Linked DNA regions of Homo sapiens: region 1 is linked to region 2. The links come from fine-mapping of genetic effects on gene expression. Tissue or cell type: testis. Region 2 holds a variant in brackets; the other region holds the start of a gene. All regions are shown on one strand. Distances are between the middles of the regions.

What was found. PIP is the estimated chance that this variant, and not a neighbour inherited with it, causes the effect.
Region 1: VTI1B starts here. The variant in region 2 is fine-mapped to the expression of VTI1B in testis (GTEx, PIP above 0.99).

What each region holds. Positions count from the first base shown.
Region 1 is chr14:67,672,201-67,677,351 of GRCh38, reverse strand. VTI1B (vesicle transport through interaction with t-SNAREs 1B) reads left to right here and starts at 2,720. Exons shown (of 6, transcript NM_006370.3): 1 at 2,720-2,977. The coding sequence starts at 2,863. RDH11 (retinol dehydrogenase 11) reads left to right here. Exons shown (of 7, transcript NM_016026.4): 7 at 1-552. It also overlaps a transcript of GPHN not described here. RefSeq lists silencers at 2,396-2,835, 2,936-3,045.
Region 2 is chr14:68,038,079-68,043,229 of GRCh38, reverse strand. The region is part of intron 7 of RAD51B (RAD51 paralog B); the gene reads right to left. Among named protein-coding and RNA genes, the nearest start is that of RAD51B, 220 kb to the right of the region's middle. The variant G/A (reference allele first, on the strand shown) is at 2,932.

The DNA.
Region 1 (5,151 bases), 370 kb after region 2:
ACAAACAAAAAAAACAATTCTTCATTCAGAAAAATTATCTTAGGGACTGATATTGGTAATTATGGTCAATTTAATAATATTTTGGGGCATTTCCTTACATTGTCTTGACAAGATTAAAATGTCTGTGCCAAAATTTTGTATTTTATTTGGAGACTTCTTATCAAAAGTAATGCTGCCAAAGGAAGTCTAAGGAATTAGTAGTGTTCCCATCACTTGTTTGGAGTGTGCTATTCTAAAAGATTTTGATTTCCTGGAATGACAATTATATTTTAACTTTGGTGGGGGAAAGAGTTATAGGACCACAGTCTTCACTTCTGATACTTGTAAATTAATCTTTTATTGCACTTGTTTTGACCATTAAGCTATATGTTTAGAAATGGTCATTTTACGGAAAAATTAGAAAAATTCTGATAATAGTGCAGAATAAATGAATTAATGTTTTACTTAATTTATATTGAACTGTCAATGACAAATAAAAATTCTTTTTGATTATTTTTTGTTTTCATTTACCAGAATAAAAACTAAGAATTAAAAGTTTGATTACAGTCAAAAGAAGAAAACACTGTTCATTATTATGGTTGTGCAATGATTTCTCATTCTAAAGAATAATTTGTTCCAGAGTCTAGCTACAGTGTAATCTCAATCCACATGCTATTAATTTAGGTTGTGTGATAATCTAATTGTTCATTCACCATTTCCTACTTAACCTTTTTTGACACTCTTCACAGACACTTTTTCCACATTTCTTGATCATCCCGGGCCATTTTTTTTTCCTTTCTTTTTAATTAGAGACAGCGTCTTGCTTTGTTGCCCAGGCTGGCCTCAAACTCTGGGCTCAAGCGATCCTCCCACCTTGGCCTCCCAAAGTGCTGGGGTACAGGTGTGAGCCGCAGCACCCGGCCCCAGGCTATTGATCCTTTTTTTGCACCTGCCCCTTATTTCTGTACTGTGACAAGTCCCAGCATTGTGCTGTGGGACTTACACAGTATACTGACTATCCTCAGACTTGGTCATGTCTATGCTCAGTGCATATTAAGAGCTTAACCAAAGTGTGTTGAATCAACAGCCAATGAACTTGATCTAATAAAAATGAGGGCCCAGGAGATACAAATTAGCAAAGCATTTTCTCCTGAGCAGTCATACATCTTTTAATATTTGTAGGCAGTTTAAAATTGAACTCCCAAGCAAACATTTGAGAACAGACACCTTGAGCAAACCGTGAAATCGGTGAAAATAATAATTTATTTTAATTTTTTGAGATAGGGTCTTCTCTGTCACCCAGGCTGGAGTGTGGTGGCACGATCTCAGCTCACTGCAACCACTGCCTCCCGGGTTCAGGCGATTCTCCTGCCTCAGCCTCCCGAGTAGCTGGGGTTACAGGCGCCCACCACCACGCTTGGCTAATTTTTGTGTTTTTAGCAGAGACGGGGGTTTCACCATGTTGGCCAGGCTGGTCTTGAACTCTTGACCTGAAGTGATCCGCCCGCCTCGGCCTCCCAAAGTGCTGGGATGACGCGTGAGCCACCATGCCCGACGTGAAGACAGGAATTTATACCCATGGAGTGCAAGAAGGGACCTTGTAATTTTTAACACGTGACACTTAGTGGCAGATGAGACCTAATGAAGCCAGGCCCACCTTCCACACCAGATTATAAATTCCCCTGGAGCAGAGATTAAATGTTTTATTCACCAACATGCCCAGATCCCTCGCAATGCCTACGCTTGACAAACACCTGTTGTCAACAAGTGCACGAGGCAGCCTAGGAGGAGAATTAGTCTCCACGAGGAGAATTACTCGGGCCTAGCAGCTAGAGTATTTCGAGGTCATCCTAACTGGGTTCCACTTTTGAATTTTTGGTTTTTGGGTTTTTTGTTTTTTTGGAGACAAGATCTCGCTCCACTTGGGAGCAAGGTCTCCCAAAGCTGGAGTGCAGTGGTGGGACCTCAGCCTCCGGGGGTAGCTGGGGCCAAAAGTGCGCGCCACCATGCCCGGTTCTTATTTTGGGTTTCTGGTAGAGCTCTCGCTATTGTGCCCAGGCTGGTCTCGAACTACTGGGTTCAAGCAATCCTCCCACCTCGGCCTCCCAAAGTACTGGGATTACAGGCGCGAGCCACTCGCCCGGCCGGGTTCCACTTCTGAAAGCTTGGGGAGCCGCTGGGCCTTCCAAGAAAAGTGCTCCACCTCCCGACGGCAGGCAGAGCCCCTGGCCCGGCTATCTTTCCAGGGCCGAAAGCTAACAGTCAAGACGCGAAACGAGGAATTCGGGTCAGGGTGGCAAAGCAAAGCGCGATGACAGTGAGGACGACGTCTAGACGCAAACATACATCAAATCGGGCCGAAGCCCGCTGTCGCCGCGCGGGCTGAACCTGGCACCCGGAGCAACGCGCGACCCCGGGACGAGACGCTCTCGTCCGAGCCAAACTACATCCCCCGGCGTGCACTGCAGCGCCCGCCCCTCGCCGGCCGGCGGGGCCCGGGAGGAAGGCGGCCGCGCTGCCAGTCCCGCAGGTCCCCTAGGCCCCTTTCGCTGCGGCCTTTCCCCAACCCGGACCCGGCACTTCTCGGGTTCCGCGACTGCCGATCGCCCCGGCGCGGCACCGCTCCCTCAGGAGTCGCCTAGGCCGCGCAGTCTCCCGACTTCTCGTCAGGCTTTCGCGCCGGCGCTCCAGCAATCACTGGCTGGAGAAGGTGGGCGTTCCGGCTCGAGAGGACCCTGCCGCGGCTCCGGAAGAGCCTCGTCCTGGGCGGCGGTGGTGCGGCGGTCGCCGTTATGGCCACTGGGCTGGGCGGCTGACCGCCGGGCTAGGAAAGGGCCCAGGGCCCCGAATCTCGGTGGCCGCTGCTCCAGCGCGGCCTGCGCCATGGCCTCCTCCGCCGCCTCCTCGGAGCATTTCGAGAAGCTGCACGAGATCTTCCGCGGCCTCCATGAAGACCTACAAGGGGTGCCCGAGCGGCTGCTGGGGACGGCGGGGACCGGTGAGGCGGGGGTGGGCCACGCCGTGGGGAGCGCAGCCCTGCGCGCTTTGGAAGGAAGATTCTCCCACCTTCCTCCCAGACCCGGGCCCGCGTCTCCTCCCTCCGCGTCCTCAGACACGCCCCCTAGGGCTGGCTTGTCCCAGCCCCAGGTCTCCCTGCTGCCACTGAGAGTAAATTGGACCTCGGGATTCAGTTCCCTGGGATCCTTCTATGGCCTTCCACATTTTCTCATCTTTTTTCACTGTGGCAAATAGAGCAGAGGGGCTTTTGCATCTGCGGTCCTGTAATGTAGAGTGGGTTTCTTTCATAGCTGTTTTTGTTTGTTTTATGCATTTAAAAGCACTAGTCTCAAGACAGGTCTAGTTTTCACCAGACTGACAGAGGATCCGTAGCACAGAAAAAGGGTTAAAAACCCAAAGGAGTCATAATTTGGGGGTGTTGGTAAATACCAGTTATTGGAGGGTAGAGAGCTGGCCTTTAAAACCTGATTGTGGCATTTAGATGTGGTCTTGTTTTGAACGTTTTTACAGCTGAGACTGTTTACTACCCCTTAATTTCATGATTCAGGTTGCTACAAGTTCTGTCTGGAGGAGCTAGAGTTTTCCGGCCCTAAATCCATAGGAAAAGCTGCTATAGTTCTTGGCCTCCGGATATATAGAATTTGATGGCAAGGACAAAACTTTGTTTTATTGCTTTTATTTAAGAGTCAGAGCTTGGGTGTTTGCTCAACGAATTACTCAAGGTCATAGGAATTGAATGACTGGTGAGAATGAAATTCATGTATTTAATATATATTTATTGTGAGGCTGCTGTGTGCTAGGTGCTGGTGAATTGTGAGGCACCGTTCTAGGTGCTGGTGAATATTGCAAATTACAGTGAAAAAGATACGAACATCCCCATTCTAGTGGGTAGGTGATAAACAATATATAACTATTAAGAGGCAGTGTTAAAGAATACAGGAAAGTAAATCAGAGTAAAAGAATAGGGGATGGGACTTCAGTTTTATTTTATTATTTATCATTTTTTTTTTTGAGACAGGGTCTCACTCTGTCACCCAGGCTGGAGTGCAGTGGCACGATCTCGGCTCACTGCAACCTCCACTTCCCAGATTGAAGCAATTCTCCTGCCTCAGCCTCTGGAGTAATAGGGATTACAGTTGCGCCACCACCCCTAGCTAATTATTTTTGTATTTTTAGTAGAGACAGGGTTTTGCCATGTTGGCCAGGCTGATCTCTAACTCCTGACCTCAAGTGATCCGCCTTCTTTGGGACTTCAGTTTTAAATAGGGCGGTTGTGAAAGTCCTCTCTGAGGAGATGGCGTTTGAACAGAGACTTAAATGAAGTGAGGGAGTAAACCAGAAATCAGGGAGAAGTGAGTGTCAGAAGGAGGGAATAGCACTGCAAATGCCTTTAAGCAGAAATGAGCTTGGTGTGTTCAGCGAAGAGCAGGAAGTTCCATGTGTTTGGGATGGAGTGAGCAAAGGAGAGCGATAAGCAGGGCCAGATCATGTAGGGCCTTGTGGACCATGGTGAAAGACTTGTGCCTTTTTCTAAATATGATGGGATGCAGTTAAAAGATACTGTGCAGAAGCATTGTGGGATCTGATTTATGTGATTGAAAAGTAGACTGCAGGCAGGGTACGGTGGCTCACACCTGTAATTCCAGCACTTGGGGAAGCCGAGGCGGGCGGATCACTTGAGGTCAGGAGTTCAAGACCAGCCTGGCCAATATGGTGAAACCCCATCTCTACTAAAAATACAAAAATTAGCCGGGCATGGTGTCAGTTGCCTGTAGTCCCAGCTACTCAGGAGGCTGAGGCAGAATTGCTTGAACCCAGGAGGCGGAGGTTGCAGTGAGCCGAGATCATGCCACTGAACTCCAGCCTGGGCAACAGATCAAGACTCTGTATCAAAAAAAAAAAAAAAAGAAAAGAAAAGAAAAAAAAGTAGACTGCAGGCCAGGCATGGTGGCTCACACCTGTAATCCCAGCACTTGGGGAAGCTGAGGCAGGAGTATTGCTGTGTTGAACGATTTTGAGACCAGCCTGGGCAACATGGTGAAACCTCATCTCTACAAAAAATAAAAAAATTAGCCAGGCATGGTGGTGCATGCCTGTAGTCCCAGCTCCTGGGGAGGCTGAGGTGGGAGGATCACTTGGGCCCTGGAGCTGGAG
Region 2 (5,151 bases):
CAGGTTTCTGAATGCCTTCTATTTAGGCTTCACAGTCTAAGTCCTTGGGTGTCAAAGGTCAAGAACCACCAACCAGAGAATTAATAAAACTGAAGCTCTAGGTAAATAAACTTCAAACTCCTAAGCTCTGTTAGAAAGTTTCACACATAGTTCATCTGTTGAGAGAGTTTTTTTTTTTCCCCATTCAAAGAGCATTTAGCCTTAGGATTGCTTTCATTCAGCAAGGATCACCTACATTCTGATTCTTGTGGTTATTAGAGCAAATCACAGGGTGTTGAGAACTTGGCTTCTTCCATCTTAATAAAACAGTTCAAGTCAGAGAGGCAGTTAATCCCTGGAAGGCTTTGTGATCCCATCCCCTGACATGTTTGATAAATATGGAAATTGTAAAATGTTCTGACTTGTTAAAATTTTTTAAGCCTGCTTAACATGCTCTTTGGCCTCAACATGCACAAAGTGCTGACTTGGCATGCCTCGGAGCCTCCATCACCTTCTCTATTGTGTATACACTGACAACCCCTGAAGCATAAATAAGTCACACTTCACAAAGAATGTTTATTCTATGCTCTAAGAGGGACGCTCCTTTTCTCAAGGAAACAAAAGCATGGGAAAGGGGAGGGAGAAAGGGTGTGTACAAAAATATGTGGCAGAAAGGAAAAAAAACCCTTCAATTCTAAATAATTACAAAATTGAAGACCATAAAAAAATCTGGGTTAGGGATAGGTATGTCTACATTTGGCTTATAAACAGATCTTTCAGAGTCTGAAATTACCATGGTAGGAAACAACTATTCCTCTTTGTTCCTTGCTTTACAAAATGTAATGAATAATATAGTTTTCTTTCAGTACCTCCTGTAATTCAAATGAGTCCACTCCCCTTTAACGCTATTCAAAGTTAAGAAAATAAAATACTATTATGACCTGTATCTGGCCACCAGTGAGCAAGAAAACAAGCTCTGATTACATGAATAGATGCAACTTCTACTCATCTCAAATAACTAATCATCTTGGAGACTGAATAAACAACTATATAAATACTGAGAAAGAAGGCTTGTAACTGTATGAGCCAGGTGCAGTGTTTAGAAACTCTGCAGACATAAAATTCAAAGGGAAACTCTGTGAAAAAATCACACAGACAGTATACTCATGAAATGCTGATGACGCACTGGAGTACTTCAGAATCTATAGCCAGCTACATTCATCAGTTGTAGACATTATTGATATTCCCAGATCCAACCATCAAATTCCCAGCACTTTGACTGTTTCCAGAAGATTGCTTTCATGGGGTCTCCTGAGGCTGCTGCTTATATTAAACTTACAATTACGAGCAACAACAGCAAAAGTGAGAAGCAGATGGCTGCAAGGTAGAATGGAAACAGAGGCCTCATGGATGCAGAGATAGGCACATCTTAGTAAAAAGAAAAGCAGCGGTAAAATAGCTGAATGGCAGAGAACTGGTGGGAGAAGGAAAAGAAGCTAAGAGTCAGGATGACATCCATACTATTAAAACTATCCAGGAAAAACTGAGAATTAGCTATAGGCCTGTAGACAGTTCTCAGGGTCTGCCAGTTTCAGGCAGACAGGAAAAGAAATGACCAGACCATTAGAAGGGGCAAGAACTTGACCTGTGGCTGCTGGGGAAGAAAACAAGGATTAAAAAAAAAAAAGAGAGTATAAATGTTGACCCTCAGGCTAGTCCTGGTACTCCAATTAAGGAAGGAAGGAAAGTGGACAAATTATGACTTTAGGAGAGAAAAAATAATCAAAAGGATTGAGAATATTATCTTCTACCTTAGCATCAATATCACATGGCTCAAAAATAGTTGCAGCTCAGAATAGCATGGCATGAAGAAAATAACACTACAGAGAGACAAGGAGACTGTATTAGTGCATTCTCACACTGCTATAAAGAACTACCTGAGACTGGGTAATTTATAAAGAAAGAGGTTTAGTTGGCTCACGGTTCCACAGGCTGTTAAGGAAGCATGGCTGAGGAAGCCTCAGGAAACTTACAACTGTGGCAGGAGGCGAAGGGGATGCCTGCACATCTTCACATGGCAGAACAGGAGAGAGAGCAAAGGCGGAAAGGGCTATACACTTTTAAATAACCAGATCTCATGAGAACTCACTCACTATCACAAGAACAGCAAAAGGGAAATTCACCCCCATGATCCAATCACTTCCCACCAGGTCCCTCCCACAACACTGGGAATTATAGTTCAACATGAGATTTAGGTGGGCACACAGAGCCAAACCAGATCACAGAACAACCAAACTAATGACCCAGTCACCCATCTTCTCCTACGGGAGGCAGAATACCCAAATGTTAAGCTCAGTGCTTCTCAAACTTTAATGTGCATGAGAATCACCTGGAGGATCTTGTTCAAATGCAGATTCTGATTCAGGAGGTCTGGAGTGAGGCCAGAGATTTTGCATTTTCAAAAAGCTCCCGGGTGATTCTCTAAGAATGCTGTGAGGACCAAGGGCTCATATGGACCTTACCCAGGTAAGTTCTGGCTTGCCTCATGACCTGGACAAGTTGTTGAACTTCTCTGATTTTTTGGTGTCTTCATTTACTGAATAGAGAGAGCAACGCTTATCACATTGATGTGAGGAACAAACAAGACAATTTAACTTAATGCCTAGCTATTATCATCACTAGCACAATAGTTCCCAAAGCAAAATAGACATACCATTGGTGGTAAAAAGAAAAGTCTTTCTAAAATTGTAATTGTTAGGCAATATTTTAATAGATACTAGAAAAAACATAACTATTACCTTAAACCCAAGATTTCATGAGTATTATCACTTAGGATAAAGCTAAGTTTAAAAGAAAAAGTTAATTTAAAAAATTACAAAGTAAATAAAAGTACAAGCGGTACAGAGATAGAACAAATATGGTGAGGATGATACTCAGTTGACTAAAGTTTGG[G/A]AAACATCAATTAATACCAGGGTTAGCAAGCTCCTTGAAGTCAAGGGCTTGACCAGATTATCCTACTATAAGGAGCAGGTGTGTGGTAGAGTTTAAACGCAGTTCAATTCTTTCTGGTCATTTAAGTCTTAGAAGCTATACTTTAATCAAATGATACTCATCTTCATCCTTATTCATATATGTTGCATAACTATGCTATCATGAATTGTGAAGCTATCCATAAGATTAAGGGAAACAAATTCTGTTGAATACAGCCATTTTCCCCCTTGATACTTACATTAACCAATCTAAACTACCTCCCAACAGTGGGTAGATAACAGAATTATTCCCCCAAGGAAAGGAAAAGCTATGATTTTATGTATCCAGTATTATGATGTTTCTCTTTTCCCACAAAAGTAGTGTAACACCATTCTTAGGTAATTTGTGGTCAAAGAGATGGATGTGGATAACTAAACACTTTACAGCTGAATTTGTCATACCTTTAACAGCAACCATTAGAGCAAACAGGAAGTCTAGGGTCATAGGTGAGTAGGAAACAGCATATTATGAGTAGTACAGTTTTCAAAAGAGAACTATAAAAGGCTTCCTGATGTATGTAGCATCTAATGTCTGATGTACTTGAAGCAACATCTCATTCTTACAATTTTGCTGTAGAAGGCTGATGGGTTTGTTTAGTTAATAAATAAAAGGTAAACACAGGCATATGCCCAAACTTCAGTCATTCACTTGTCTGTGACGTGAACCACTTCTCCAATGAATTAGATAATAGTTTTCAAATACTGTCCTGAAAGAATATTTTCTCAAGTTTTTGGTGCTATTCATAGTATAATGGTTATAGATATATAACACACTTTTTTTTTTTTTTTTTTTTTGGAATGAAGTCTCGCTCTGTCACCAGGCTGGAGTGCAGTGGCGCCATAATGGCTCACAGCAACCTTCGCCTCTCAGGTTCAAGCGATTCTCCTGCCTCAGCCTCCTGAGTAGCTGGGATTACAGGCATGCGCCACCACACCCAGCAAATTTTTTATTTTTAGTACAGATGGGGTTTCACCATGTTGGCCAGGATGGTTCTCGATCTCCTGACCTTGTGATCTGCCTGCCTCAGCCTCCCAAAGTGCTGGGATTACAGCATGAGCCACCGCACCCGGCCAGATATAACACACTTTTTAATATGTGTTATTAACATTTTTTCCATCACTTTCTTAAGTCTAGACAATCAGCAAAACAATAAATCAGCCCCTGATTGGTTGTGTTTGCTGATTTTCATGGTGTTAATACTTCTACCATGGCTAATTTGAAGCTATCAACATGATGTTAATGAACATGAAGTTGTGAAGAGATATACAATAGTATACACCATTATATAGTATTTCCAATACAGATACAAGAGACACAAATAACCTCAAGAGCATAGATAATAAAATGTAGTAAAACATAATTACTGAGTTTTGAGTATTATCTTTGTTTTTAAATAATTTATTTAATTGTAAGTTTATATAGTTTAATTTTTACTGATAACTGGCTCACAAAATTTCTGAAAATTTAATCACTAGATCTTGGGAGCTGGTGGGGGCTGCCTCCAACACATCATTGGCCACGTACCACATCCCACACATTGTTGCTACCACCCAATTTACATATCAATTTTGAGTTTTCTAAGTTAAAAAATTCTTGCATAAATGTGATAAATTTTGTGTGTTAAAGAAATGACAATAAAAATAACCATACAGATATTATGATTTGTATATTTTATATAGCCAAGTTTGTAGTTAACAATGGAAAACTTAAGAAATATTTCTGCCCTTCAGGCTTTACAAAATCAAATAATAAAAGCACCACTGCATCTTGAGGGAGAAAGGTAGGAAACAGATATTCATTTGAGTAAGAAAAAAAAAAAGGATATCAAGCTATGAATAAAAATATCTGTACTGATTTTTCACAAATAAAACTGCTCAGAAAAACTTGACATGCTAATGGAAGGAGGCTGCTTATAATTGAATCCTAAAGAATGTTTTCTATGATACAACCACCACAACATAAATGTTTTAGATGCTATCATTACATGCCGATACCAACTTTTTAATTTGTAAAAGATAAAAGAGGAAATTATAAGCAAATCCAAAGCTAATTCACTAATCCCTCTAACTGAAGTAAACCACTCAGAGAATTAGAGAGCTTATTCCACAGAATGGTCATTTATGATGTCAAATAATACTTTTA